Homo sapiens: one gene and its partners. The protein of the gene in region 2 interacts with the protein of the main gene of each other region in a biochemical or structural test. Each region holds a gene or a part of one and is shown on either strand. Other genes may lie near its edges. The genes, in order: CARD11, PRKCQ, GLRX3 and HSF1.

What was found.
Region 1: of the proteins of PRKCQ (region 2) and CARD11, one has a biochemical effect on the other in vitro, tested with the Homo sapiens proteins (2 studies listed by BioGRID).
Region 3: the proteins of PRKCQ (region 2) and GLRX3 form a complex in vitro, tested with the Homo sapiens proteins (one study listed by BioGRID).
Region 4: of the proteins of PRKCQ (region 2) and HSF1, one has a biochemical effect on the other in vitro, tested with the Homo sapiens proteins (one study listed by IntAct).

Annotation. Positions count from the first base shown.
Region 1 is NC_000007.14:2,935,867-2,942,890, reverse strand, and holds part of CARD11 (caspase recruitment domain-containing protein 11), read left to right. Parts: intron 1-2,962; coding exon 2,963-3,142; intron 3,143-4,059; coding exon 4,060-4,212; intron 4,213-4,858; coding exon 4,859-4,984; intron 4,985-5,656; coding exon 5,657-5,854; intron 5,855-7,024. UniProt on the Homo sapiens protein: Adapter protein that plays a key role in adaptive immune response by transducing the activation of NF-kappa-B downstream of T-cell receptor (TCR) and B-cell receptor (BCR) engagement.
Region 2 is NC_000010.11:6,570,273-6,577,296, reverse strand, and holds part of PRKCQ (protein kinase C theta type), read left to right. Parts: intron 1-7,024. UniProt on the Homo sapiens protein: Calcium-independent, phospholipid- and diacylglycerol (DAG)-dependent serine/threonine-protein kinase that mediates non-redundant functions in T-cell receptor (TCR) signaling, including T-cells activation, proliferation, differentiation and survival, by mediating activation of multiple transcription factors such as NF-kappa-B, JUN, NFATC1 and NFATC2.
Region 3 is NC_000010.11:130,160,380-130,167,403, reverse strand, and holds part of GLRX3 (glutaredoxin-3), read right to left. Parts: intron 6,609-7,024; coding exon 6,407-6,608; intron 898-6,406; coding exon 725-897; intron 486-724; coding exon 424-485; intron 1-423. UniProt on the Homo sapiens protein: Together with BOLA2, acts as a cytosolic iron-sulfur (Fe-S) cluster assembly factor that facilitates [2Fe-2S] cluster insertion into a subset of cytosolic proteins.
Region 4 is NC_000008.11:144,287,121-144,294,608, reverse strand, and holds the start of HSF1 (heat shock factor protein 1), read right to left. Parts: upstream 3,006-7,488; 5' UTR 2,852-3,005; coding exon 2,735-2,851; intron 1-2,734. Other genes in the region: ribosome biogenesis protein BOP1, read left to right, coding at 3,239-3,337, 5,305-5,514. UniProt on the Homo sapiens protein: Functions as a stress-inducible and DNA-binding transcription factor that plays a central role in the transcriptional activation of the heat shock response (HSR), leading to the expression of a large class of molecular chaperones, heat shock proteins (HSPs), that protect cells from cellular insult damage.

The DNA of each region.
Region 1 (7,024 bases), on a different chromosome or scaffold from region 2:
TGAAGAGAGATCTGAAGGGATGAAAGGAGCCAACCATGCAAGTCTCAGGGGAAAGCACTCGCAAAGCCCATAAGTAGGGGGCATTTTGTTTTTGTTTTTGTTTTTGTTTTTGAAGAAACAGCAGGAAGGCTGAGCTTGATGGCCCACACCTGTAATCCCAGCATTTGGGGAGGCCAAGGCGGGAGGATTGCTTCAGTCCAGGAGTTTGAGACCAGCATGGGCAACATGGCAAAACCCCATCTCTACAAAAATAAGCCAGGCATGGTGGTATGCACCTGTAGTCCCAGCTACTAGGGGTGATAAGGCAGGACGATTACCTGAGCCTGGGAGGTCGAGGCTGCAGTGAGCCATGCCTGTCAAAAGAAAGAACTAGAAGGAAGGAAGGAAGGAAGGAAGGGAGAGAGAGAGAAAGAGAAAGAAAAAGGAAGGAAAAAGACAGGAAGGGAGGGAGGGAAGGAAGGAAGGAAGAAAGGAAGGGAGGAAGGAAGGAAAGGGAGGAAGGGAGGGAGGAAGGAAGGAAGAGGGAGGGAGTAAGGAAGGGGAGGGAGGGAGGAAGGAAGGAAGAGGGAGGAAGGAAGAGGGAGGGAGGGAGGGAGGAAGAGGGAGGGAGGAAGGAAGGAAGGAAGAGAAACAAATGAAAGAGAAAAGAAATGGCAGGAGAGTCAGTGGGGCCAGAGCCAAATAAACAAATGGTGCAGAAGGGAGTGGAAGGGATGGCGGGGTCCAGATCATGGGGGCATGGTAAGAACTTTGGGATTTATTCTAGTTGTGATGAGAACCCTCTGAAGGATTGAGAGCTGAAGAGTGACAATTGATTTATGTCTGAGAAGGATCACTCTGGCTGCTGGATGGAAAATAGACTCACAGAATATTTATTAAGCACCTGCCACGTGTGAGGCACTGTGCTAAGCACTGTGGGAGACATGGGGATAAATAACGTGAGCTGTGCTCAGGTCACTTACAATTTAGTGAAGCAGACAGATCCGTAAACAATCCACCGGGAATTCAGGTGAATTGAGTCAGTGGCATAGCAGGCAATAGTGTTTTGGTTAGAAGCATGAGCTTTGTAAGTCCTGTAGCTTTGAGTTCAAATTCTGGCTTTATGCTTTACGACTTACTTAGCTATTGGCCTCAGTTTCCTCATTTGCAGATGTCAATAATGAAAGTAATACGTGTGCCCTAGGATTGCTGGGATACTGAACCGTAGGTCTTTGGCGGAGCGGCTGACCCTGTAAGCACCCCACAATGCTAGCGCCCCATGCCTGCTCGTGTGGGACCCGGGACTTACCACAGGACACTTGGGTTAAGCTTTGAAGATGCTGAGGAGCTTTTTTTTTTTTTTTTTTTTTTTGCATGAGCAGGAGAGATTTCTATGCTGTTTTTACCTAGGATTTGGGGAAGTTACCCTGTGGCAGAGACTTACAAGTTTCTCTCCCGGAACTTCCTCCTGTGTTATGTTTCCCTGGAGATACATTAATAGTGAGAAAGTGTAAGTAGAATTTGGAAGAACATCTGGCCAGCAGAGTCCCTGGCTGGTTTTCTTGGCCTCGGGCTGCTTCCTGCACGCCCCTTTCTTCATCGTCTCAGGTTAATCACTGGGGTGCAGGAGCTGGTCTTTTCTTGCTAAAGCCACTGCTCTCTACCTGCCAGATTCCTTGAGATGATTCTCCTTCCAAGACTAGATTTGAAAAATGACACTCTCCCCTTTGGTGCCTCCTTTCTTTATAGCCCTCGAATGCAACCTTCTTGTTTGGGATACTTTAGCAAAGCCGATGTGTTTGGGGAGGAACACAGGTTAGTCTCACAGGTTGAAGAAGTCTTCTGCTGGTCCCAGTTCCTGACACTAAACTCTTGAGTGTGAAAATCAGCACATCTCCACTTGTCTCATTTCCAGATGCAATAGCTGCCTCCTCCAGGAAGCTACTCTTTCTGCCACTAAGTCTAGGGAGGTTCTTTAGGGTGGAGATCCTGTGAAATTACAATTCAGTGAATTTCAGGCTGTCTTCTTCTCCTTCTCCTTTTCCTTCTCCTTCTCCTCCTCCTCCTCTTCCTCTCCTCCTCCTCCTTCTTCTCCTCCTTCTTCCTATTATTCTTCTTTCTTCTCCTCCTCCTCTTCCTTCTTCTTCTTTCTTCTTCTCCTTCTCCTTCTTCCCCTTTCTCTTCCTCTTCCTCTCCTCCTTCCTCCTCCTCCTCTCCTCCTCCTCTTCCTTCTTCTCCCCCTCCTCTTCTTCCTCTTTTTCCTCTTCTTCCTCCTCCTCTCCTTCTCCTTCTCATTCCTCCTCTTCCTCTTCTTCTTTCTCTTCCTCTTCTTCTCTTTTCTCTTCTTCCCCTTCCTCTTCTTCTTCCTCTACTTTTCTTCTTCTCCTCCTTCTCCTGTTTTTTCTTCTTTTTCCTCTTCCTCCTCCTCTTCCTCTTCCTTTTTAGCAACAGTGCTATTTATCCAAATAAAATCTTGTGTGAAACCCAGAAGAACAAACCACACAAGCAGAGCTGTTCTGGGATGTGAAGTCAGTGTGGATGCCCAGAACCCCAACTTGTCAACCATCTCCTCCTTCCCCCTGGGTAACCCCTGGATTCCTCAGGGGAATCCTTGAGTTCCGAGGATCAGAATTTGAAACCCATCAGAGAAGGGCGTTGAAGTGGGAAACACCAACTTGGATCTCTTTTATCCCAAAATCCATAACCTGTCCCACCTGACAAAGGTTGAGGGAATTTTCTCTGAGGCCTGTAGCCCCTTTGGAGCTATTCTAAATAGACTAATCAGGAACTCTCCATCAACAGGGTGATGACAGTTTGTTTTACTGGAGAAGGTTTCTTGGAGCCCTTCTCTGCCCGTGGAAGAAGGAGAGAGGGGCATAACTCAGGTTATGCTGCCAGCCCAGTGGGATCGGGGGAAGCGTTGCCTTTTCTGAGTGTTTCTTGCCACCTGCCTTCTCCCCTGGGCACCCTTGGGGTATTTCAGATCGATCAGCTAAAGCACCGGTTGAATAAGATGGAGGAGGAATGTAAGCTGGAGAGAAATCAGTCTCTAAAACTGAAGAATGACATTGAAAATCGGCCCAAGAAGGAGCAGGTTCTGGAACTGGAGCGGGAGAATGAAATGCTGAAGACCAAAAACCAGGAGCTGCAGTCCATCATCCAGGTGAGGGCCTGGGGGCGGGGCCAGCGCGGGCAGTGGGAGGGTGAGGGCTTGGGGTTGGGGGAAACGATGAACCTGCCAGGGTGTGAGTCCCCAAGCCTCACCCATGCTGACTGCAGGATCACAGGCATGCGTGCCATCCTTGGGCACCTTTGTCTCCTCCTCTGTAAAGCGGTGACCCCCACCACCCATTTGTCAGAGATAGGATATCATACTTGGGAAAACATGTGCTTATTTGAAGCACTCCAGGAAAATCACCAACCACGTGGAAATCAATGCCCTGGGCACTGTGGGAAGAGACAAGGACATCTAGGAAACCTACGTGCCCTTAAAGATTCCAAGAAACTCAACTGTAAGCTCCGTGCCTCTTGTTCCAACCTCAAATGCCTCCCCACACTTGTCATCGCCGAGTCACTTGTGGGCACAGAGGAGGAAGTTGCTGAGGAGTGACATCCCAAAACATATCTACAGGGCAAGAAAAAAAACATGCATCCTCCTGCTCCCTCCAGAACAGTCCCCCCAGGAGTGGCTGCCTGGTATATGAGGCTCTGTTTCAGAGCCGAGGATGAACCCAGCTTCTCCAGAACAGATTCCTTGATATTTCAGGGGCAGCATCTAAAAAGTGTTTCGGGTGCAGCAACTGCTTCTCTGCGCTCCGATAAGCGCCAGGGAGAACAAAAGGCCCAGGATACGCCCAAGCAAAAGCCAGTTTTCTGCTTCTTTCCAGGCAATAAACTTCTTAAATGCTAAGCTTCTTAGAGACCCCAGGGGACATACATCTCTTCTTGCCTCTACCTTCCAGGCACAAAACCTTCTGCTCTGTCCGTATCTGTTGCTGGTTCTTCTGTCCCCTGCCCTCCAGGACCACCTGGCTCCCCACCCCGACCCTGACCCTCTGAAACCTCCTCCCTCCCACCCAGGCCGGGAAGCGCAGCCTGCCAGACTCAGACAAGGCCATCCTGGACATCTTGGAACACGACCGCAAGGAGGCCCTGGAGGACAGGCAGGAGCTGGTCAACAGGATCTACAACCTGCAGGAGGAGGCCCGCCAGGCAGAGGAGCTGCGAGACAAGGTGGGAGTGGGGATCGCCCGCCCAGCGGTGCCCTCGGCCGGCCCCCTTCACACCAGGGGGCAGTGGTGTGTGTCAGCAGGACCTCCCTGACCCCACACTCCTTTCCAGGGACTAGATCAGACCCCTGGCATAAATCCCCTGTACCTCCCAGTATTCAGCCCCTGGCAGAAGCTGCAGTTTATCAACCAGATGAGGGCCTGGGGGTGGGAGCAATGTGGGCAGAGGGGAGGGTGAGGGCTTGGGATTGGGGGAACCCACATACCTGCCAAGGTGTGAGTCTCAGAGCCTCACCCACACCTTGCGGATTGCAGGATCCCAGATGTGCCGGCCACCCTTGGGCATGTACAAGCTATTGCACCAGCTTAGCACCTGTGTCCCCCTCCTGACTGAGATCACATTGTCCTCCCCTATGTTACCTGGTCTGTAGTGGGTTCACAACAATGCTGGGTTGATTGGTCTCCTACCTTGAGCCCCAACAGTCAGATAGTCGGTTCCCAGAAGGGCAGGCCATGTCCTGACCATGCCAGCTTAGGGAGGGACAGGCCAGCTCCAGCCAGCTGGCGGGAAGGCACGAGCAGAGAACAGCTTTCAGTCCTGACCTATTGATTGCTCGATGCGCATATTGATTTCTCTGTGTGGTTCACAGTACCTGGAGGAGAAGGAGGACCTGGAGCTCAAGTGCTCGACCCTGGGAAAGGACTGTGAAATGTACAAGCACCGCATGAACACGGTCATGCTGCAGCTGGAGGAGGTGGAGCGGGAGCGGGACCAGGTACAGGCACCACCTGCAGCGTGCAGGGCGGCGAGGCTGCACAGCGGGGCCCGCACCCCAGACCACCGGCTCCTTCAGAGTGTTTTGTCCAGTGCAACATCACTGACAATGCAGGGATCACTCCTGAATCCATCTTTCCCATTTCTGTTCCAAAGATGAATTCTAAAAGATGAATTCCAAAAGGCTTTTTTGGAAGTCACAGGCGTTTGGGTAGCAGGGGGATCCGAGCTGGGCTCCAGCAGCTCCCACGACCAAGCATGGTTCTTAAATGTTGTGTGTTCTCTCGGGTGAGAGGATGGGTTCAGATCCAGCCCTGTCATTCATAAGGTGTATGCCCATAGGCAAGCTGCCACCCCTGACCTCAGTGCCCTCATCTGTAAAATGGGGATAATTACGGTAGCACCGCCTCATAGGGACAGGCTGTGGCCTTCCAGGGACACTGCATCAAAGCTCTCAACACAGAGCCTGCCACTAGCAAGGGTCGGACCATCGGCTCTGTGATCGCGTTAATGAAGAAGGTAGTGACTGACACGCCCAGGGGTCAGACTGCAGACGAGAGCCACAGACGATGTGGCTGGCCCCTGGGTTGGGATGATGCCTGTCCCTGGGCCCAGCTGGATTTGGCTGGGGTGCAACCCCCAAAGCAGCCTTCGTCCCGCTTCTCCCTGGCAGGCCTTCCACTCCCGAGATGAAGCTCAGACACAGTACTCGCAGTGCTTAATCGAAAAGGACAAGTACAGGAAGCAGATCCGCGAGCTGGAGGAGAAGAACGACGAGATGAGGATCGAGATGGTGCGGCGGGAGGCCTGCATCGTCAACCTGGAGAGCAAGCTGCGGCGCCTCTCCAAGGACAGCAACAACCTGGACCAGGTGGGGCGGGACGGGCAGGACCCCACGCCTGAAGCCAGGTGGGCCCTGGTGCCCACTGAGGGCTGTGGCCAGTCCCCACCTCCCCGTGGAGACCCACACCTGAAGCCAGGTGCCCCCTGGCACCCACTGAGGGCTGTGACCAGTCGCCACCTCCCTGTGGGGCCCCAAACCAGAAGCCAGGTGCCCCCTGGCACCCACTGAGGGCTGTGACCAGTCGCCGCTTCCCTGTGCAATGAATGGCTCCTTGTCCTTTGTTTAGTTTTGTTTTGCTTTTGAGACAGGGTCTCACTCTGTCGCCCAGGCTGGAATGCAGTGGCACTATCACAGCTCACTGCAGCCTCAAACTCCTGGGCTCAAGCAGTCCTCCCACTTCAGCCTCCTGGGTAGCGGAACTAAAGGCACACACCACAATTCCTGACTAATTTTGTAATTTTTTTGTACAGACGAGGTCTCACTGTTTCCCAGGCTGGTCTTAAACTCCTATCCTCAAGCGATCCTCCCGCCTCAGCCTCCCAAAGAGCTGGAATTACAGCCGTTTGCCACTGTGCCCGGTTGGCTCTTCATATATTTGAAGCCGGAAGTTCCCTCCCACGCCCAGCATAATCCACATCTTTTACTGTTGTGTTTGTGTCTGTTTAGTGATGAGTGGAAGCCACTCATTTTGAAGTTAGAAGATGCAGGGTAGGGCTGGGCACAGTGGCTCATGCCTGTAATCTCAGCATTTTGGGAGGCTGAGGTGGGAGGATCGCTTTAGGGCAGGAGTTCAAGACCAGTCTGGGCAACAGAGCGAAAATTTTTAAAAATTTAAAAAATTAAAATTAAAAACATAAATAAGAAGATGCAGGGCGCCAGGTGCGAGGGTTCACGCCTGTAATCTCAGCACTTTGGGATGTCGAGGCAGGTGGATCACGAGGTCAGGAGTTCAAGACCAGCCTGACCAGCATGGTGAAACCCTGTCTCTACTAAAAATACAAAAAAATTAGCCAGGCGTGGTGGTGCGTGCCCATAGTCCCAGCTACTCGGGAGGCTGAGGCAGGAGAATCGCTTGAGCCCAGGAGGCGGAGGTTGCAGTGAGCCGAGATCACGCCACTGCACTCCAGCCTGGTGACAGAGCAAGACTCCATCTCAAAAAAAAAAAAGGCAAGCTTGACCTGGCCACTTCCTTGCTGG
Region 2 (7,024 bases):
TCATTATTTTAACATGCCAAGCATTTATACATGTCAAATTCTGATTGCTCTGTCATCTAAACACATTCTTGGGGACAAAATGAGCATCAGAGTTTTAAAATTAGGAAAGCTCACTCAAGCCCAGAATCATAGATTTTTGCTCCTGGATTAAATTAGCAAGTATTTGGCAGGACATCTTTCTGCAGGTTGCTGTAGGTTGATGTTAGCTTTTGAATTAAGCTAATAGTATTAATTATAATAATAATAATCAGCATCAACAAAACCAATGAAATATGGTTTTGAGTCTTTATTATTTAGAATTTATGTGCTGTATATCATACTCAGAATTTTATTTATATGTAAGAGGCATTACTGCTTCATTTAACCTCCAAAAGCCTTTATAAATTAGATATTATTATTATTCCAGTTTTTCAGATGAGGAAACTGAGGCTCAAGGGGTAGAGCCCCTTGTCCAGGTCTTATAACCAGTCAGTGGTAGAGTCAGGTTAGTTGGACCATCCAGATTAGTCTAACCATCAAGCATTTGCTTTAAACCGCAGTCCCAGGTGACCTACCAGTTAACTTTTTTATTGTGGTTAAAATACACATAACTTAAAATTTAACTTCTTAACTATTTTCTAGCGTACAGTTCAGTGACATTAAGTATATTCACATTGTTTTGCAACCATTGCCATCATCCATCCACAGGATTCTTCTCATCTCCTAAAACTGAAACTCTGTCCTCGTGGAACATTCGTTCCTCATCCGTCTTTCCTCTCAGCCCCTGGCAGCCACCCTTCTACTTCCTGTCTCTAAGATTCTGACTGCTCTAGGGACCTCACAGAAGCAGAATACAGTATCCATCCTTTTGTAACTGTCTTATTTCACTTAGCATAGTGTTCTCAAGCTGTATCCATGTGACAGCATTGGACAGGACTTCCTTCCTTTTTAAGTCTGAATACTATTCCATTTATGGATATACCACATTTTGCTTATCCTTGTATCTGTTGATGGTTGCTTCTATCTTTTGATTATTGTGAATAATGCTGCCGTGAAGAGGAACACGCAGATATCTGTTTGAGGTCCTGCTTTCAATTCTTTGGGGTATGTACCCAGCAGTAGAATTGTGGGGTCGTAGGGTAATTCTATGTTTAATTTTTTGAGGAACTGCCATATTGTTTTCCACAGTGGCTGGACCGTTTTACATTCCCACCAGTGGTAGAAAGGGTCCCAATTATTCCACATTCTCAGCAACGCTGTCTTTTGTTTTGTGTTTTTTGAGATGGAGTCTCGCTGTGTCGCCAGGCTGGAGTGCAGTGGCATGATCTCAGCTCACTGCAACCTCTACCTCCCAGGTTCAAGCAATTCTCCTGCCTCAGCCTCCTGAGTAGCTGGGACTATAGGCACGCGCTGCCACACCCAGCTAACTTTTGTATTTTTAGTAGAGATGGGGTTTCACCATGTTGGCCAAGATGGTCTCGATCTCTTGACCTCATGATCCACCCACCTTGGCCTCCCAAAGTGCTGAGATTACAGGCGTGAGCCACCGCACCTGGGCTTTTTTAAAAATCTTCTTTATAGTAGCCTTTCTAATTGGTGTAAGGTGCTGATAGTTAACTTTTTACCCAATCATTGAATGCCCAATGGCAGGGATCTCTGGGCTGATGCTACTCCTGAGTTCATTGTTTATTTCCTATCCCAGCTTGAGCATATACACCTTTTTCTAGTGTAGAATTAATGGAGGAAATACAACTCACACAGCACCTGAGGGACTAGGGAAGCCATGGAAAGGACAGTCCCTAAAACATAAACAGAATGTCCCGGTAGGTAGGGTTATCTCCACCTCCATGAGGAACCTTATGATTCAGAAATGAGTAGTTGTTGAGAATAAAGTGAACATGGCATCAGTGTTAATAACCCTGAATGTGTGGGACAGATGCTTTTTAGAAGATTAGTTACAGATATAATTATCTTTTGTATGTTATCAGAGCAGGACAAGTTCCCAGGACAATGGAGAGAATGGAAAGGGAAACTGCTATTGAATTCACCAGGCCTTTGTTGCAAGCCTCAGATCACACACCGTGCTGCAAAACCCACAGGGAGATGTGGTCAGGCAAATAGGAAATTATAATGAATTGTGATGAATTCATGAGATATTTGTACTATTTTGTATCAGTTTATAATGTCATGCAACTCTGTTTTATATTTGCTAGTTTCCTTTCTGTCTCTTTTTTCCTCTAGCATGAAACTCCATGAGGGCTGGCATTTTGTCCCTACATGTGTCCCCAGCCACTCTAACAGGGCCTGACACATACCAAGTTGTGAACAAATATGTGCAGAATGATTGTGTGTTTCAGTAGGGGACACACTTGGTATTATGTGCACAGCTAGATTTGGGGTGTCGCAGAGCTGTCAGTGACGGCTCAACTGAGACCTGAAGGGGAAGTGGCAGTGAGCCAGATGGGGGTTCTGGGAGGTAGGAACAGTGTTTGTAGAATGTCCCTGCAGCATGTGAGTCTGGAATCCCAGTGCAGTCCAGTCTAAGCCTTGCAGATGAGTGGAAATGAGCAGAGTAAGCATCACAGCTTCCATTTAAACCTCTGCTCCCCATCCTAATTTGCCATATGACCTTAACCAGTGAACTTCTTGGAGTGTCATTCTCTCCATTTGCAAAGTGAAGAAAATTGTGATCTCTGATAGCAGTGATGCTGCGAGAAAGGAGCATGTGCCAGTGTGTGGGCTATTGCTGGGTGGAGCTGGAGGAGTCAGCTGTGCCAGATCACATAGGACCTGTAAGCAGGTGAACCATATACGTTATCCTCCAGATGGGGACTGTTTATAGAGTGAAAGAGCACGTTATTAATCACTAAGCTTGGGTAACAGGTACAAACCCAGATTGTCCTGGGCAGACTGTCCCGTAGAGTTGTCCTGCGTTAAGTCATACGAAGGAGTTTGATCCTTTTCTAAGAACAGGAGGAACCCTTTAAATGCTTTATCTACCAATGTATACAAGTGCCATTCAGGTTCTCTCCAGCGTTTCAGAGAGTTTTACCTGCCCATGAACTCACAGCACTCGGCTTGCACTGCAAACTCACCTATACGTTGGCAGCTGTCTCCTCACTGGGCACTTAATTCATGAACAACTAGGAGGGAAAGACAACAAGACAGCCAGGGGTCTGCTCTTTGGCTCTTTGCATTTTTTTTTACGGGGTCTTGCTCTGTCGCCCAGGCTGGAGTGCAGTGGCACGATCTCAGCTCACAGCAGCCTCCGCCTCTGAGGCTCAAGGGATCCTCCGGCCTCAGCCTCCTGAGTAGCTGGGACTACAGTTGCATGCCACCATGGCCTGGCTAGTTTGTGCACTTTGTAGAGATGGTGTTTTGTCATGTTGCCCAGGCTAGTCTCTAACTCCTGGGCTCAAGTGATCTGCCCGCCTTGGCCTCCCAGAGTGCTGAGATTAAAGACATGAGCCACCACACCTGGCCTAGCTCTTTTCGCCTTTAACTGGAGTGTTAGCTGATATCAAGAACACATCTTTTGGGTTTTTCTTTTTTTAACCTTGTAACACCTAAAGGACTGCGGCTAAGTGTTAAAAGAAAAAAATTTCTATCTGGTGGTTTAAATATCTGCAGAAGCAGAATCCTTGTCATCCTGAAATTTTTTCCCTGTGGGCAAGAATTCCTAATAAGCGTACAATCTATTGGAAAAATCAAAAAGTAAACAAACTATGGCAATATATTCTAACATGTATTGACTTGTCACTATCGGCCGTTTGCTGTGCTAAGCACTATATGTAGATGATTGCTTGGGTGCTTTGAGAACATGTAGAAGGGAACCAAGTCCTGATTCGGAGGTTCAGGAAAGGCTTTCAGAGGACAAGGTATCGCGGGTGGGGATGGAAGATGTATGGGAATTAGCCAAAAGGACAGGGGTTCAGAGGTGAGCCAAGTCTGTCCTGAAAGTAAGCAGAAATGTTGTTGTTCTTGTCGTTTTGAGAGAAGTTCATCTCAGCTGTGTTCAGCATTTTTAGGGCATAAGCTTCAACATTTTCCGTTCTGTTTTCACTGATATGTTTTAGCTATACAAAAGCAGGCCTTCTACACAGTTTTTCAAACTCCAAGACACAGTCTACTAGTGGGCAATGACATTAATTTTGGGGGTGATAACAAGCATGAAATAGAATAAAACAGAAAATATTAAGATGCATTTCATGTAGGAAGGGTAATTATTTCATGAAACTGTATCATTTGGTTTGGGACACATTAAATCTGTTCGTACCTAAAAGAAGACATTCATGCAGCCAACAAACATGGAAAAAAAACCCTCAATATCACTGATCATTAGAGAAATGCAAATCAAAACCACAATCAGTTACCATCTCCTGCAAGTCAGAATGGTGATTATTAAAAAATCAAGAAACAACAGGTGCTGGCAAAGTTGCAGAGAAATAGGAACGCTTTTACACTCTTGGTGGTGGGAATGTAAATTAGTCCAACCATTGTGGAAGATGGTGTGGCAATTCCTCAAAGATCTAGAACCAGAAATACCGTTTGACTCAGCACTCCTGTTACTGGGCATATATCCAAAGGAATATAAACCATTCTGTTATAAAGATACATGCACACGTATGTTCATTACAGCACTATTCACAATAGCAAAGACATGGCATCAACCCAAATGCCCACCAATGGTAGTCTGGATTAAGAAAATGTACATACACACCATAGAATACTATGTAGCCATAAAAAGGAATGAGATCCCTGTCCTTTGCAGGGACATGGATAGAGCTGGAAGCCATCATCCTCAGCAAACTAACACAGGAGCAGAAAACTGGACACCTTATGTTCTCACTTATAAGTGGGAGCTGAATAATGAGAACATGTGGACACAGGGAGGGGAACAACACACACTGGGGCCTGTCGGGAGGTGGGATTGGAGGGAGGGAGAGCATTAGGAAAAGTAGCTAATGCATGTGGGGCTTAATACCTAGGTGATGGGATGATAGGTGCAGCAAACCACCATGGCACGTTTACCCATGTAACAAACCTGCACGTCCTGCACCTGTATCCCAGAACTTAAAATAAAAATAAAAATTAAAGAAAATTACATACCTATGGCATTTAGTTTTCTATACCATTCCTTTAAGTCATAGAATCAGATGAGCTCAGGGGCTAGAAGGAAGAGGGAGCGATGGGAAGGCAGTCGTTGGTCATGCCCTGGGCCTGGATCGCGGGAATCAGTCATTCAGAAAGCCCCATATGTTGGGTGGGTCTCACAGCTTACAGAGAAGCCAGCTGAGGTGTGCAGGTTAAGAAACTTGATCTAGGGTCACAGATTAAATTACTAGCGCTGACCCCTGATCTCTTGGCTTCTGATGTGGTGGTATTCTTTCCATACCTCCAGGGACTGTGTTCCCAAAGTTTGTTAGTTAGGTGGCTGTTTAGGGAAGGACCACACCTGGTTCCTGTTTGTTTGTTTCTTGGTTTGTTTGTTGGTTTGTTTGTTTGTTTGTTTTTGAGGCAGGGTCTTGTTCTGTTGCTCAGGTTGGAGTGCTGTGACTCAATCTCGGCTCACTGCAACATCTGCCTCCCAGGCTCAAGCAATTATTGTGTCAGCCTCGAGAGTAGCTAGGACTACAGGCATGCACCACCACACCTGGTTAATTTTTATGTTTTTAGTAGAGACAGGGTTTCACCATGTTGGCCAGGCTAGACTTGAAATCCTGGCCTCAAGTGATCCTCCTGCCTTGGCCTCCCAAAGTGCTGGGATTACAGGTGTGAGCCACCCCACCTATCAAGGGAAGATATTTTCTTAAGGGGAGTATGTAATAACAACCATGTCCCTGGTTTGTTAGGAAGGTTATAAACTTTGAAATATACCCATCAGTTTCATAAAGAGCAAGACAGGTTAGGAAGAAATAGTGTTCATTATACAGACTAGAGAGCTTTCAGCTTGACATTGACAAATATAAACTTGGCCACTGTCCCTCCACTAAAGCGTTTCCCTTGCTGCTGGGGAAGGACCGCCTGGTGATGTTGTGTGAGATGATGCACTTTCTTTGCCCCCTCTGTGGTCACTGGGATCACAGCTAAATCCAACTGTCTGCTTTTTCCAGTGTCTACACATAGGCTGATGAGTTCTCCCGGAAAACACGCCGCTCTGCAAATTCAGGATGCCGTAGCTCTGTGACTTCCCACTCCATCTAGGATCTCTGTCTTCCCCAGCTCCCAGACGTTTCCCTGGCCAATGATCTTCCTTCCCACGGCAGCTTCTCCACAGCTGCTCCTGCCTCCGCCGTCCCCTCGCACTCAGCAGCTGTCTTGCCTCCTGCTTCCCTGAGAAAGTACAAGTTTCCCGATTCAGAACTGCCCCCACCTGGGGATCACAGGGCTGCACGCCTCACTTTATCTGAATCCATCCTCTCATCCTTCTTTTCTTTCACAACGAAAGAAACCCCTCAGTTCCAGCCAGGCACAGTGGCTCACATCTGTAATCCAAGCACTTTGGGAGGCCAAGGTGGGTGAATCACTTGAGGCCAGGAGTTTTAGACCATCCTGGCCAACACGGTGAAACCCCGTCTCTACTAAAAATACAAAAATTAGCCAGGCGTGCTGGCGCATACCTGTAATCCCAGCTACTCGGGAGGCTGAGGCAGGAGAATCGCTTGAACCCAGGAGACAGAGGTTGCAGTGAGCCGAGATTGCCCCATTGCACTCCAGCCTGGGTGACAGAGCAAGAGTCTGTCTTAGAAAAAAAAAAAAAAAAAGAAGCCCCTTAGTTCCTGTCTGAGGCTCACCTCCCCTGGGGCCCTGGAATCCATTTCTTTCTTGTTCTTGGGAATCTCAATCTCTTATCTTCCCTGTCACCTGCATTTTCCTTCTCTCCCTCATTTCTGGCCCCATTCTCTCTGTATTAAGTGCGCTTAAATCCCTTCCTTCTGTGAAAAAAAGAATATATATCCTTTTATACCTTCCTCCAGCTACTTCCTTGTCTTGCTTCTCTTCACAATCAAACTCCTCAAATTGTTGTCTACACTTGCTGCCTTTG
Region 3 (7,024 bases), about 120 Mb from region 2:
TTTTCACACTCACCACTTGTCACTCAGTGCTCTGGCGTTGGGGCAGCACCCGCAGCAGTCACCAAGGCTGCACCCAGTAAAACACGAGTGTGCTGAGGTTACGCCAAGGAGCAGTGACAAAACAACTGGACCCTGGCTCTGAAATGCAGAGAGGTAAGCAAAACTTGGTTGTTCCACAGAAACAATGACATTTCTATAAAAGCAAAGCAGATCCTCCACATGATCACTAAGTTGGTGCTAAAATTTCTCCAATACAAATTAGATTTGCCAAAGTTTGAATGGCTAATGTGACTAAACAATTATGACGTCTGGCATACCAAATCCTTGATTTCTACACAGAAAGAGCAATGCAAAACCTGAGGACTTTAAAATATTTTTAATATATTAAATGATAGGCTATTTGAAACCTTCTAAAACACTTACCTTTCCTCTAATTTGGGAGCTTTGGGACAAATTGTATCTAGTTCTTCAGATGCTTCTAGCTCCTAAAATAAGCACACATACCAGTTTTATGAAAAAAATTATTATAACATAAATCTCCTTGATCATACCATAACACAGATTATTGATCAATCAACTAATCAGAAATACTGTGTATTCATTGCAGGTTCTTATTAGTAAATATAGATTCATAAGAAATTTGTATCTTAGATTTATCACAACATTTTAAAAAGTATGCTCTAAATGGAATTTCTTTACAAAGCACAGACTTCTCAATTCTAACCTTAATTATATCAAGTCCTCCTATGAGCTCTCCAGAAACATAGAGCTGAGGATAGGTAGGCCAACTGGAATAGGCTTTGAGTCCCTGTCGAACCTCTTCATCTGAGAAGATATCAAAACTGCTAAACTGAATATTATGTTTGTGAAGAATTTCCACCATCTGCTTGCTGAAACCTGTACACAAAAAAAGAAATAAAGCACTTAACTTCTCTCTCCCAAAACACATACACATGATAATACATTAGTTCAGCGTACATATCATCTAAAAGACATAGACGCCTGCCTTATTTTGCTGGTGATTTAATTAGCATGGCTGAATAATATACAAAGAGAAAATAAATTCCTGGATCCCCTTATTTGACCTTGAACCATATCACACACTCAGATATGACTTAACTTTTTGACACAACTGTGACTACTGAAAAAAAAAAAAAAAGTGGTGTGTGTATTTATTAAAGTTATTCTTCAATATCATGGACATTTTTTGTCACAGGAGAAATAGCACTAGCCAAAAAGCAGAGACCTGGGGGTGATGGTGCACACCTGTAATCCCAGAGACTGGGGAAACTGAGGCAACAGGCTCACTTGAGCCCAGAAGTCTGAGGCTGGAGCGACCTATGAGATTGTCACTGCACTCCAGCCTCCAGTTTGAGTGATAAAGCAAGACCTTGTCTTTAAACAAAACCAGAAATCTGAATCTGACACCTGCTCCCTCCACCCACCAAGGTGACACATGATGAGGCCATGGGTGGCCTCCGCTCAGCACTTTCCTACTAATCAGGAGACTGACCTGATGCTCTGACAGTCCCTCCCAGCCTTTCTGTTATGAATCTATGAGAATCAATTCTGGGCAGATGAAAAAATTCTACAATTGTTATTTTTAACTACTACTTGACTATACTTAAAACCCAATGCTGTTGCATTTCTACTGCCATTTTACTACTTCCTGAGTTCCCACTTCAGTAGTTCTCAATCTTCACTATCTCTAAGTAGGATAAATTAGAAATCAAGAAGGCATGTGTTCTCCTGTAGTCTAAAATACACACAGTACATTGAATTTTAAAGCTATCTTCTCTGTTGTTATATATGAACCATCAATAGATTGACGGTATTCTTTCTCATCTCATGTCATAACTTGACAGTTTCTTTTTTAAAACTATTTACATTCCCTAAAGTATGTAATGTAATTTTTTTACTACACTATAGCGACAATTTTATGTTCCATGATTTTATTATACTTTTGTGACACATTTTTATTCTGTACTTTTTTGACATCATCTTATTATGACATTATAACTGAAGAATAAGAGTGTGAATATCAGTCTTTTATAAACCTATTAGCCTAGTCTGAAAAAAAAAGTATTTTTCTTTCCATAAGCTAATTCTTCTCCATTGTTCCCAATACTATGTAGGGCCCTACTCTTTCACGCCTCATTCTTCTTCTCAAACACAGTTGTAATTCACTGGAAAAGAACCTATTCTTCAGATTCAAAATTTCTATAAGACTTAGCAGTGTCAGCAATTGTTTTTAAATAAAATCAAACCATAAAATTCAATATAAGATTAATTGCAAGAATGGGCTTTACTGATGTCACCCAAAATCATATTTACTATTAAAACATGGATCTACAAGTGAGCTCTAAACATTTTCCAAATCTGCAGTTTATTGAGATGAAGCACTAGTATTTATTTGTATAGCATATAAGTTGCTTTTCCTACATCTGAAGTGTTAAGTTCATGTACAGCCTGAAGTAAAACACTGATTCTGAAATTTTTTTATTCATCTGGGAGTTCATTAGTAAACAGCTAACGGCTGATTGCTGATGGTTATTCTGTTGCCAATATATTAACTCATTTTTACTGTAACTGGCTGAGAAGAAGCTTTATTTTAGCTTTAGGCAATTACATGCAGACTAGAAAGATTGATTGGTAGTGTTTCATTTTTAAGAGTTAAAGTGGCAGACTAGAAATGTTACGCTTAAGGATAAGATGGCAAGAAGGCTTTATTCTAGTAACAAAATATTTACACACCTTTTTTTAAGAAAAATGCATGCATGCAATAAAAATATTTAAATGTAGAAAAGTAATGTTTAACTGCCACAGAATCCCCATTTCCACCCCCAGTCATTTCTACTCATGACATGAATAGGTGCCTAACACCGCATCTCATCACTACCTAACAATAAACCCTAAAAAACATCTCTGAAACCTGATTCTGTGGCTGATTCAAAAGTAAGAGCCCGGCTGGATGACTCTCACTGCAGAAGGAATATCTGACTATGCCTCAAATACCTTTTGCTTTGCTAAAAGCTTTGTTAACTGAAATAGTTATAAGAATTCCCAAATAATTAACCTGCTCAAGGATTTAAGATTCTGTTTAAGATGACATATACCTCAGTGCTTCTGGAAACTCTTCCTAAAACAAGCATTTTCCCATCTTCATGAGGAGCACAGAGTAAGGACAATCCAATTCTTTTCAACTGAGACCCTATCTACACGTCAGGCTCATAACACACCATACAATTCTGCAGGTAGAGCCCACATGAAGGATAAGAAGATGGAGACATGACCTGTGCAGGGGTTAGGCTGAGTCCAGTGGGGCTCCAGGAGAGACCCTAAAAATGGCTTTCAAGGTTTTCTAGATATAAAATTTAAATGTTATTCATTCATGTTTTTCTGATTAGCAGAAAGCAAGGTGGGGACAAACTAATCAAAAAACAAACATCAAAATACTCCGCAGTGGGAGTTCAGTGGTGTTAGCAGAGATAGCACTTTCAAAGCTAATTTGGTGCAAAATAAGGAAAGAGCAGCCACGTGCGTGTTCACAAGATGAGATGGCCAGTGCTTTTATAAAGGGAGCTTTGCCTACGCCCTTCTCTAAAATGCCAGAAGAAGAGCAAAAACAATGCTCCACTAACCAGGCTCAGAAAGGAACAGCAGAGGGTCGAGGTGACTTATGTTCCCATAAGAAAACAGTTTAAAAATATTTTCCAATTAATCCTAAGTATTTTATTAAAGAACAGCAACATTCTTAAATGATCTATTTACTATATGTGACAGAAAGACATGAAACAGAAAATATCAGGAAACAGAAAAACCCACTGAAAATGTAGTTATAAAAATTATATAGAAGTACTTTAAAAGAAGAAACTGTAACCATTCAACCATATGTATCTCAAAATATTTATTGTCTTTTATTAATTAAATAACTATAATACTACGTTTTCAGATGGCTCTGAAATGTGTTTTGTTTTGTTTTGAGACAGAGTTTCACTCTGTCACCCATACTGGAGTGCAGTGGCTCGATCTCGGCTCACTGCAACCTCTGCCTCCCAGGTTCAAGCAATTCTCCTGCCTCAGCCTCCCAAGTGGCTGGAATTACAGGACTCCACCATGCCCAGCTAATTTTTGTATTTTTAGTAGAGACGGGGTTTCGCCATGTTGGCCAGGCTGGTCTCGAACTCCTGATCTCAAGCGATCCGCCCACCTCAGCCTCCCAATGTGCTGGGATTACAGGCATGAGCCACCACGCCCAGCCCTGAAATATTTCAAAGCTTCTTTTTTATTCTGTTATTTGTACAGTCTTCCAAATCTCACTCCATTATAATAAACATAATTTAAATAAGTTTAATATAAATATAAAAATGCTAGCAGTATATTTTAAATTCAGTTTAATAAAGTAAAAGGTAAGCAGAAAAATTAAAATGTCTAAGTTTCTCTCTAATTTACTTGAATAATCATACAATATCTACACTGAAAAGGCCCTCCAAGATTGGCTCCAACAGCCAATCTTGTTCCCAACAGCACTAGAAGGAATTAAAGGCACAAGGAGGGTACCTGACTTGTCCCCAAAGTTGCTAAGGCCGCAGGGGTGGGCCTGAGGCTCGCCTGGCATGACACCCAGTGCAGCACACTTCCCAGGACATCCTTCTCCTCTGAGCACTCCTTCCCCAAGCTTCAGTGTTGCCACCTGCCTTTTCATTAGGTTTATCATTCAGAAAAGACTGAGACTGCTGCTGTTCAACCCCAAAGGAGAGAATACTGTAGAGATTTCACTGTAGGTGTGCTTCACCCACATTTCACAGCCAGTTCTACTGTACCTGAGATCTGAATGAAGGTGCTGAATACAATCCATTCAACTGAAGTGGTAAGTTCCCATTTAGTGGCCACCGCACAAAGTACAAGAAATAATTTTCATGTTTCATGGAAGAAGGTGAATGTGAACCATTTGCAACCCCCGTTAAAAACAAAATAACAAACGCAACAGAGACTATCTGTTGCTACCTTTAGTTTAGTACAGACTAAGTTAGCTTTGCAATACACAAATAGCAGGCATTATCTGACACATAAATACTGGCAGGGAAATTTTTTAGGCAGAACTAAGAGATACTTTTAAGACAGAATTCATGGTGGCTCACGCCTATAATCCCAGCAGCACTTTGGGAGGCCAAGGCAGGCGGATCACCTGAGGTCAGGAGTTTGACACCAGCCTGACCAACATGGACAAACCCTATCTCTACTAAAAATACAAAAAAATTAGCCGGGCATGGTGGTGGACACCTGTAATCCCAGCTACTCGGGAGGCTGAGACAGGAGAATCGCTTGACCCCTAGTAGACAGAGGTTCCGTCGCACTGAGATCGTGCCATTGCACTCCAACCTGGGCAACAAGAGCGAAATTCCATCTCGAAAAAATAAGAATTCATCATGAAACTTTATTTTTAAAACTAGACATTATCATAAGCTAATATGTAATTTAATAACCCTACAGGGAAGAATTTAGAATCAAATTCACACTAGAAGCTTGGCTATCTTTATAAAGTCACTCTGGACATGCTGTAATCATATCAAGAGCATACTCAATGTTACTGCCCCTATCTTAATAAAGTCCCTCCTGTGTAGTTGATACAAATACTCTTAGAGTCTCAACAGCATCATCAAATGGCATTAAATGCTCAATTATGCAGCATACTAATGTTGTACTAGGCACAGTAAAAAGAAAATAACATAAACCCACTACCAGAGGGGTCAAATAACTCTAAAACTTACTTAAGGACAAAATTATAAGCATCCATGTGTACAGAAAATAAGAGTGACTACAAGCCAAGAATTCGGAATCTTTCCATTACCAGCAGCTATAAACTGGAAATGACAGCAATGCAGGAAGAGAATCATTAGACAGTGATGACACAGGGGAGGCAAAAGCACACAGGCTGGACACAAAAACACTGAAAAATTCCGCAAATTTTTTAATTGCTGAATCTGAACTAGGTGAAAAACAGGAGGCTGCCAAGAAAGAAAAAATAACTGTTAACAGCAAAAGTAGATAAACAGGCAAAAGAGACAGCAATATGGTAGTTGGAACCTAATCCTAACTCTGCTTACCAGGTGACCTTGGGCAAGTCACCTCTATCTTTGAGTCTGAGGACTTCAGTATAAAACAAAAATCTGAATTAGATGAGTTCTGAGACCCCTTTTGGTTCCAACATGCTGAGTCCATAATGCAAACTAATTCTTATATAGTGTCATTGGGAATTATAACCTTTTTGATTTTCTAAAAGTATGTGAACACAAGTATAAGATGTATGGTATAGCATCCTTGGAAACAGGATGCCCATCTCAACCATACCCCATTCTGGGAAAGCACCCATTTTGTTTATATTATGTTAAAGGCAGCTTCTTACCACAGCGTGGTTCTTGAGGAGTTCCTTTCATAAACAGCATGCAGGGGGCAGCATGAGTCAATTTCTTCAAGCGAAGGTTGAGATCTTCTTTAAGATGTTCATTAGCGCTGGGTAGGAAGGAGCCACTAGATGCATGTCGCTGAACTTTTTTGGTCAACTCTGGGGCATGTGCACCATCTAATCGGTCGATTTTCTGAGAATTCTAAAGTTTAAAAAGTTATTTAGAATACATGCAGCATTCCATAATAATGACATTGTTATAGCAGATTTTTAAAGGGGACAACAGTATTACCGGAGATGTAAAAAAAGAAACCCTCATTGCCAATTGCCTGCACTGCATCTCAATTTTAGAAATACATAATTTTTTTCTTTTCTCAGAAACACACTGAGAAAACACTGCAACATCTCAAAGTCAAATCAGGTCAGTCTAACATAATACAAAAAAGACTGCCCCCACATTGGCTGGAATGAATCTATTACTAAGTATAAATGAGGTATTTGGGGAACTACGATGACACCCATGGGTGCCTGGAAGCACAGGTGTGCACCTGCTTCCTAAAAGTCATTCATCAAACCAGAACCAGCCAGAGATTCCATTATGTCCAGGCACATGCTCTA
Region 4 (7,488 bases), on a different chromosome or scaffold from region 2:
TCCCATTCCTGGCCAGGCTCAGTAAAGTTACTGGCCAGTTTCTGGGCCTCGGTCTCCCCCAGGTTATTCAGCCTTGAGAGTTAGTCACCATGCCTGTGATTCTGCCTCATCTTCTTGTGTCAAATAGGGAGGGTTTTTCTTGGCAGAATGGTGGTAAGACTCTGAGCCAGAAGGAGACTCTCCCAGAGAAGGCAGCAGAGAGCAAGAGCACCAGGGCCTTCTCAAGGCCTCCGAGAGCCAGCTGGGCCTGGGCAGTAGATTTGTGGGAGGGTGCCCTGTTGGGACTCTGCTGACAGGGAGTCCTCAGGGCTTGTGTGAGTGCTCTCAAAGTCACAGGATGGGATGATCACCTCCTTTCTCCAGGCCAGGCAGCCAGCGCCGGAAAGCTCTGCAGCCCCCTGCGCGGCCTGGAGAAGGGCTTCCTTCCAGTTTTAAGTCAGTGTTTCTGTCTCATTGCCATGCTCGCCCCCAGTGCTACGTCCTGCACCAACCATTGCCACTTCATACTGACCAGGTGGAACCAAACACTCACATTCCAGTTGGCTCCCCATCCCTCCCCAGGGAGAACAGATCCACAGGTGGTGCACCTGTGAGTGGAGTGGAGGCTGGCCACGGGCCTCATCACACCTGCCTTCCTTGCTCAAAAGCCCTGCCCAGAACATGCCTCGGTCCCAAAAAAGGGTACACTGGGCCCTAACCCACATGCCTCATAATCTTTAAGCAGAAACAGCAAGCAGATTACGGGACAGGACAGATCACGCTAGTAGGATTAAGCTTAGAATATCCCAGATAATCGCGGATGCCCCTCCCCCAATGGGGGAGTTATTCCCCTTAACTTCTGAGGATTAAGGGGAATAAGAAAAAGAAGAAGGGCTGGGTGCAGTGGCTCACACCAGTAATCCCAGCACTTTGGGAGGCCAAGGCGGGTGGATAACTTGAGGTCAGGAGTTCCAGACCAGCCTGTCCAATGTGGTGAAACCCCGTCTCTACTAAAAATACAACAATCAGCCGGGTGTGGCAGCACGCACCTGTAGTCCTGGCTACTCGGGAGGCTGAGGCAGAATTGCTTGAACCCGGGAGGTGGAGGTCGCAGTGAGCCGAGATCGCACCACTGCACTCCAACCTGGGTGACAGAGCAAGACTCGGTCTAAAAAAAAAAAAAAGAAAAAAGAAAAAGACGGATAAAAGAAGACAGAAACATGGGAGTATTTCCTTTGCACAAGAATCCAAGGTCTAGAATGAAGAGATGGTGAAATGAAGCCAGCCTCCAGGAAGGTGCACTGTGCCTTAATGGGACCTGGGGATGGGAAGGCCAACACAGAGGTGTCAGCGGGACAAACACAAAGTGTTTCTAACAAGAGCAAAGATTTCCAGTCTTCTCTTTATTTCCAAACACTCTGTAGGTAAAGCAGAGCCTCAGTAAACCCAAGAAGCAGAAAACCTGGCCTCCTGCCTGGGGCAGCTTCAGTTTAGACTTTTCTTCATTCCTAACAGCATAAAGAGGCTGTGCAAATGGGAGGCACTCAGCAGAGCCTGAAGAACTCTGGGGTCTTAGCTCCTGGGAGGCCACACATGCTTGGTGGCACCCTGCCGGTCACGGTGCCTCCAAAAGCTCCCAATGATCAGTGGCCTTTCTTTTTTTTCTTTTTTTTCTTAGACAGGGTCTCACTCTTTGCCAGGCTGCAGTGGCGGGATCTTGGTTCAGTGCAACCTCTGCCTCCCAGGTCCAGGGAGTCCTCCTATCTCAGCCTCCCAAGTAGCTAAGACCACAGGCAAGCACCACCACGCCCGGCAAATTTTTTGTATTTTTAGTAGAGCTGGGGTTTTGCCATATTGTCCGGGCTGGTCTCGAACTCCTGGCCTCAAGTGATCCACCCGCCTCCGCCTCCCAAAGTGCTGGGATTACAAGCAAGAGTCACCCCACTCGGCCAGTGTGGCCCTTCTTCAGGTCATCACTTGCCAGCCGCAGGCGGTGGCTCTGCCCCTCACCGGACACGACGTCACAGCCGGGATGTGAACAGCAGATTCTGATCTCCAACTCCAGACAATCACTGATTTACTTCTGCAAACCGGAGCTGTCCGGTCTTGCAGGGTCGGACCATGTAAACAAGCCTGCTGCCAGGCAACTGAAGACAGAAACACGAATAAAGATGCCCCATAAGGAATGAAAAACAAAACTCCTCTTGGGAAACCCAGATTTGGGATTCGGAAACGGGCTTGAGATCAACCTGAAGCTTCATGACGTCTTACTGTTTCCACTGCCTTTCCTGTTCCACTACAGCAACGCCCTCCACTTCACGTGCCAAGTCCTGACTTTCTCCTAATAGTTGCCGACCCAGCACCCCGTAGGCTGTCCCCTGGGGACGCCGATGTCCTCTGGGGCATAGCGTCCGCTGGCGAAGCCGGGTGCTTGCCCTAAGCGCGGACACTTCCGCAACCGCCCAACAGTTAGCAGAAGCCCAATACAAGAGACGCCCCATTCTCCCCATCCCAGGGAAACTTCGCTGGGGCAGGGGTTGAACCGAGTGTGGGTCTCGTAGCCGCTTTCCCAACTTAAGGCTCTGGGTCTGAGCAGGCTCGGGACCCGCCGCCCTTCTCTGGCGGGGGCAGGGCAGGCTCACCGCGCGTAAGCTGAAGTGCGGCAGGGCCCCTCCCCGCAGCCCTCCCGCGCCGTCCGCCGCGGCCCTGCTCCCTCCCGGTCCCCACGGGCCCCGCGCCCGCGCGCTGCCCTCACCGGGCTCCAGCAGATGAGCGCGTCGGTGTCCGGGTCGCTCACGAGGGTCCACAGCTTGGTCAGGAAGGCCGGGACGTTGCTGGGCCCCGCCGCGCCGGGGCCCACGGGCAGATCCATCTCGAGCAAGGAGGGAATAGGCGGAGGGAGCGGCCGCAAAGAGGGGCCGAGGGCCGGGCTAACGCCGTCGCCGCGCCAGCCTTCCGGGCCGCGCCGCCGCCCGCTGCGCACACACAGCCCCGGGGCCCAGCATGGCCGCCGCCATCTTGCAACGGGCGCGCTCCCGCCGCCGCCGCTGCCGCCCTCCCGCGTCACCCCCGGCGCGAGCACGCAGGCCCCGACCCCGCCCTGGTCCCCGGCCCAGCCGCGCGCCTGCGCGTGTTGGTCCCACCCCCTTCCCTCCACCCGCCAATCGGGGCCGGGCTGGGCGGGGCGCGTCCTCCTGCGCACGCGGCCCGGTCGCTGTCGGAAGCGGCTGTGCGGGTGGCGGCCGGCGCGCGGTGGGGCATGGCGGGTTCGCGGGGTGCGGGGCGCACGGCGGCGCCGAGCGTGCGGCCGGAGAAGCGGCGGTCTGAGCCCGAACTGGAGCCTGAGCCCGAGCCGGAGGTGACTGTGGCGATGCGGGGCGGCGGGGCGCGTCCCTAGAGGGCCCGGCGGGCACGTGGCCGCGCTGGGGCGGGTGGGCCCGGCTTCTGTCACCTGGGCGCCCGCGCCCAGTGAATCGGTCTTGGGCGTGGGTGCAGCTCCTCTATCGGGGGGTCTCAGGCAGAGCGGACTGCGGGGTAAAGGACGGCGTCCGGGAAGCAAAGAAACGGGGGAGCGGGGAGTGGGGACGGGGCGCCCCTTGCAGCAGCCTCTCCAGCCGTTCCATTTGTGCATCCTGCCAATAAAAGGGCTCGGCTTGCGCTCCCAGTAAATGCTTAACCTACGTATACGCTAGTTAATTGCGTTTTTATGCTCATGGGATAGACATGAGAATAAGAAAACCTGAATAGAACCCAGTGTCTGCTGCATTTGCTGTATTAGAACTCACTGTTGCTCTCTGCTAGCTCAGCCCTGTCTTGGTTGTGGGGATCATCAAATTGGGTGGTGGAGGGGATGGACAGCCAGCCCCTCACAGCCCCCTCGGCCGCGGCCGCGCTGGGTTGTTGAAACTGCCCCATTGCTTTGTGAAGCGAATTCAACTCATCCTGGCTCCCATGGGCTGAATGGCCCGCAGGCCACTCTAGGCGCCAGGTTCTGCGACTTCCACCCTTGGACTAAACGGTCCTCAGGAGCCAGTTGTTTGCGCCCAGGCCACGGATGCCATTTCCACTAGTTATTGTGATTGTGTAGCCGACTGAATACCAAGACACATCATGACTCTGTGTGAGAGAGGCATTGTGTGAACACTCGGTATGCAATAGCTAATACATGCAGGTCGTACCTTAAGTGAGACTTGTAAACTATTAGGAAAACAGTAAAATCTAGAATTCTGCATTCAACTGCTTCCTTTTTCTTTTCTTTTCCTTTTCTTTCTTTTTTCTTTTTTTTTTTTTTGAGACAGAGCCTGGCTCTGTTGCCCAGGCTAGAGTGCAGTGGTGCAGTCTTGGCTCACTGCAGCTTCCACCTCCTGGCTAACTCAGCCTCCTGAGTAGCTGGGATTAGAGGTGCCCGCCACCACCAGCTAATTTTTGTATTTTTAGTAGAGATGGTTTCACCATGTTGGCCAGGCTGGTCTTGAACTCCTGACCTCAGGTGATCCACCCGCCTCAGCCTCCCAAAGTGTTGGGATTACAGGAGTGAGCCACTGTGCCTGGCCTTCAACTGCTTCCTAAGAGTCTAAGTTCTTGTTCCACCCTTTAAGGCCAGTGAAGGACCCGAACACTGTGTGTGCCGGTGTCACGCAGCCAGCAGGGCTCTGCTCAGAGGCAGCTGTGGTCCTGCTCAGAGAGAGGAGTGGGTGGGTTGGTGCGTGGTTGCGGTTAGAGTCTCTATCATTCCTGTGACTCTTCAGCCAATCCTTTCAATTTACTGATCAATCGTTGGTCCCAATCTGGTTAAATGAGGAGGCGTCTGCTTCAGGTGGTAAAAGCCCTTTGGGGACCCATTTCTCTTCCAGCCCCCAGCCCCTTTTCTAGTGACCTCTTGGCTCTGGGGCCTTGGATGCCAGGGTGAGGTGTGGAGAGGGCTCAGGCAGGCTGTCTGAGGGACCCAGTGGAGTCCAGCCCAGCCTGACCCCACAGGGCCTCCGGAGTGTCAGTGGGTGGTAGAGAGCAGTGTTAGTTTTGCGATGAGAGCTGAGCTCCAAGAGGAGGAGGTTGTCCTTGAAAAGCCCCTTCCCTGTGAGGTGCTAGGAATTAAAATGTCGATGGCAAAGGCAAGAGGCTGTCTTGTCAGTGGAGGTAGAAGATGAGGAAGGCTCAGGTTGGGTGGATGCTTTTGGTGGAAGTTTGTGACTGGAGGGGTGTGGTCCTGGAGGCCACATGGAGCTGCTGGTGGGTGGCTGGAGGGGCGAGAGGCAGCTCTCCCTGCAGTGTTCAGTGCCCCATGCCTGGAGGGGCAGTTGTCACCAACCCAGTGTTTCCTTGCAGCCCCCCCTCCTCTGCACCTCTCCTCTCAGCCACAGCACCGGCAGCGATTCTGGCGTCTCCGACAGCGAGGAAAGTGTGTTCTCAGGCCTGGAAGATTCCGGCAGTGACAGCAGTGAGGATGATGACGAAGGCGACGAGGAGGGAGAGGACGGAGCCCTTGATGACGAGGGCCACAGTGGGATTAAAAAGACCACTGAGGAGCAGGTGCAGGTGGGTGAGCGAGGAGCCCCCTCGAGGGCTGTCCCCCATGTGCAGGTGGCCTTGGGCTTTCTGAGACTGCCACTGTACTGCCTTCTCCACCGTCCCTCAGAACCCCAAGGCCGGCGTCCCTCCTTCACTGCACCTGGGGCACGCTTGGGCTCTAGGACGCTGGTTTCCATCCCCAGTTGCGTGCCGTTCCCAGGAACTCTGAAAATCCACATGCCTAGGCCCTTCCCCGTCAGACGATGCTCGGGCAACCCTCCTGGCAACAGGTTGGGTTTCCTTGAGGTGGGGATTTTACTGCTTGGAATCCAGTGGCAGGACCCAGCTGAGGAGGGAGCTGAGCAGCATGGCAGGGCTCAAGCAGGCGGCATGGGGGCCCCAACGGAACCCAGCTGGGCCTGACCCCACAGGGCTTCAGGGGCCTGAGCAGCCGACGGGTAGAGGGTTTAACATTGTACCTGTTGCAGCGATGGTGGGGGAGGATGCACCCTACTCTTATTGAGAACAACAGGAGAAAAGCATAATTTAACTAAAACACAGCATTTGTTATTTTTTTTTATTTTTTATTTTTTTGAGACAGAGTCTCACTCTGTCGCCCAGGCTGGAGTGCAGTGGTGTGATCTTGGCTCACTGCAACCTCCATCCCCTGGGTTCAAGTAATTCTCCTGCCTCAGCCTCTCTAGTAGCTGGGATTACAGGTACATGCCATCACGCCCGGCTAATTTTTGTACTTTTAGTAGAGACAGGGTTTTGCCGTGTTGGCCAGGCTGGTCTCGATTTCCTGACCTCAGGTGAGCCACCACGCCCGGCCTATTTTTTTTTTTTTTTTCTAAGACAGAGTCTTGCTCTGTTGCCCAGGCTGGAGTGCAGTGGGGCGATCTTGGCTCACTGCATCTTCCACCTCCTGGGTTCAAACAATTCTCCTGTCTCAGCCTCCTGAGTAGCTGGGATTACAGGTGCCCACTACCAGGCTCGGCTAATTTTTTTTTGTATGTTTAGTAGTGACGGGGTTTCACCATGTTGGCCAGGCTGGTCTCGAACTCCTGACCTCAAGTGATCTGCCTGCCTTGGCCTCCCAAAGTGCTGGGATTACAGGTGTGAGCCACCGCGCCCAGCCCAGCATTTGTTACTCTAAACATTCTGGAAATCGTTTGTAAGGATTTACTCTCCCAGTAGTTTCGGTGTTCTGGAAGTTACGGCCTTGGCAGAGGTCCCCGTGATAGAAGCCAAGGAACCATGGCTTGTTCATTGTGTGCTAGCTGTGTTGGGTTGGCTTGTTTGCTGGGAAGAAAAGATTTAAAATCACACTTAATTCAGGCTTTAATTATACCACTAACATACACAGAGAAAAAATGATGTGCTGTGTTGGCAGTGGTTTGTAAGATTATGGACAACTACGTTACCCCTTCTTGAGTTTTTAAAATGATACAATACTGGGCCAGGCACAGTGGCTCATACCTGTAATCCCAGCAGCTCGAGAGGCCAAAGTGGGAGGATCTCCTGAGCCCAGGAATCCAGGTCACAGTGAGCTATGATAGAGCCACTGCACTCCAGCCTGGGTGACAAGCAAGACCCTGTTTCAAAAAAAAATTATGAGATAAAACATCCTGGAAAATAATGTAGATATTGTAGCAGCACCATTCAGTAGGGTGGAAGCTCCCACTCAGGGCCCTCACACCTAACCCGTGAGCACAGTTAGTGGTCTGGTGTACATCTTTCTGGGTCTTCTGTCCCTTTTTAAATTAAGGATTTACACATTTACATGTTAATGATTTTTTTATTAAATTCTTTCAGCGGGCGTGGTGGCTCACGCCTGTAATCCCAGCACTTTGGGAGGCTAAGGTGGATGGATCACCTGAGCTCAGGAGTTCAAGACCAGCCTGGCTAACATGGTGAAACCCTGTCTCTACTAAAAATATAAAAATTAGCTGGGCGTGGTGGCGCGTGCCTGTAATCCCAGCTACTCGGGAGGCTGAGGCG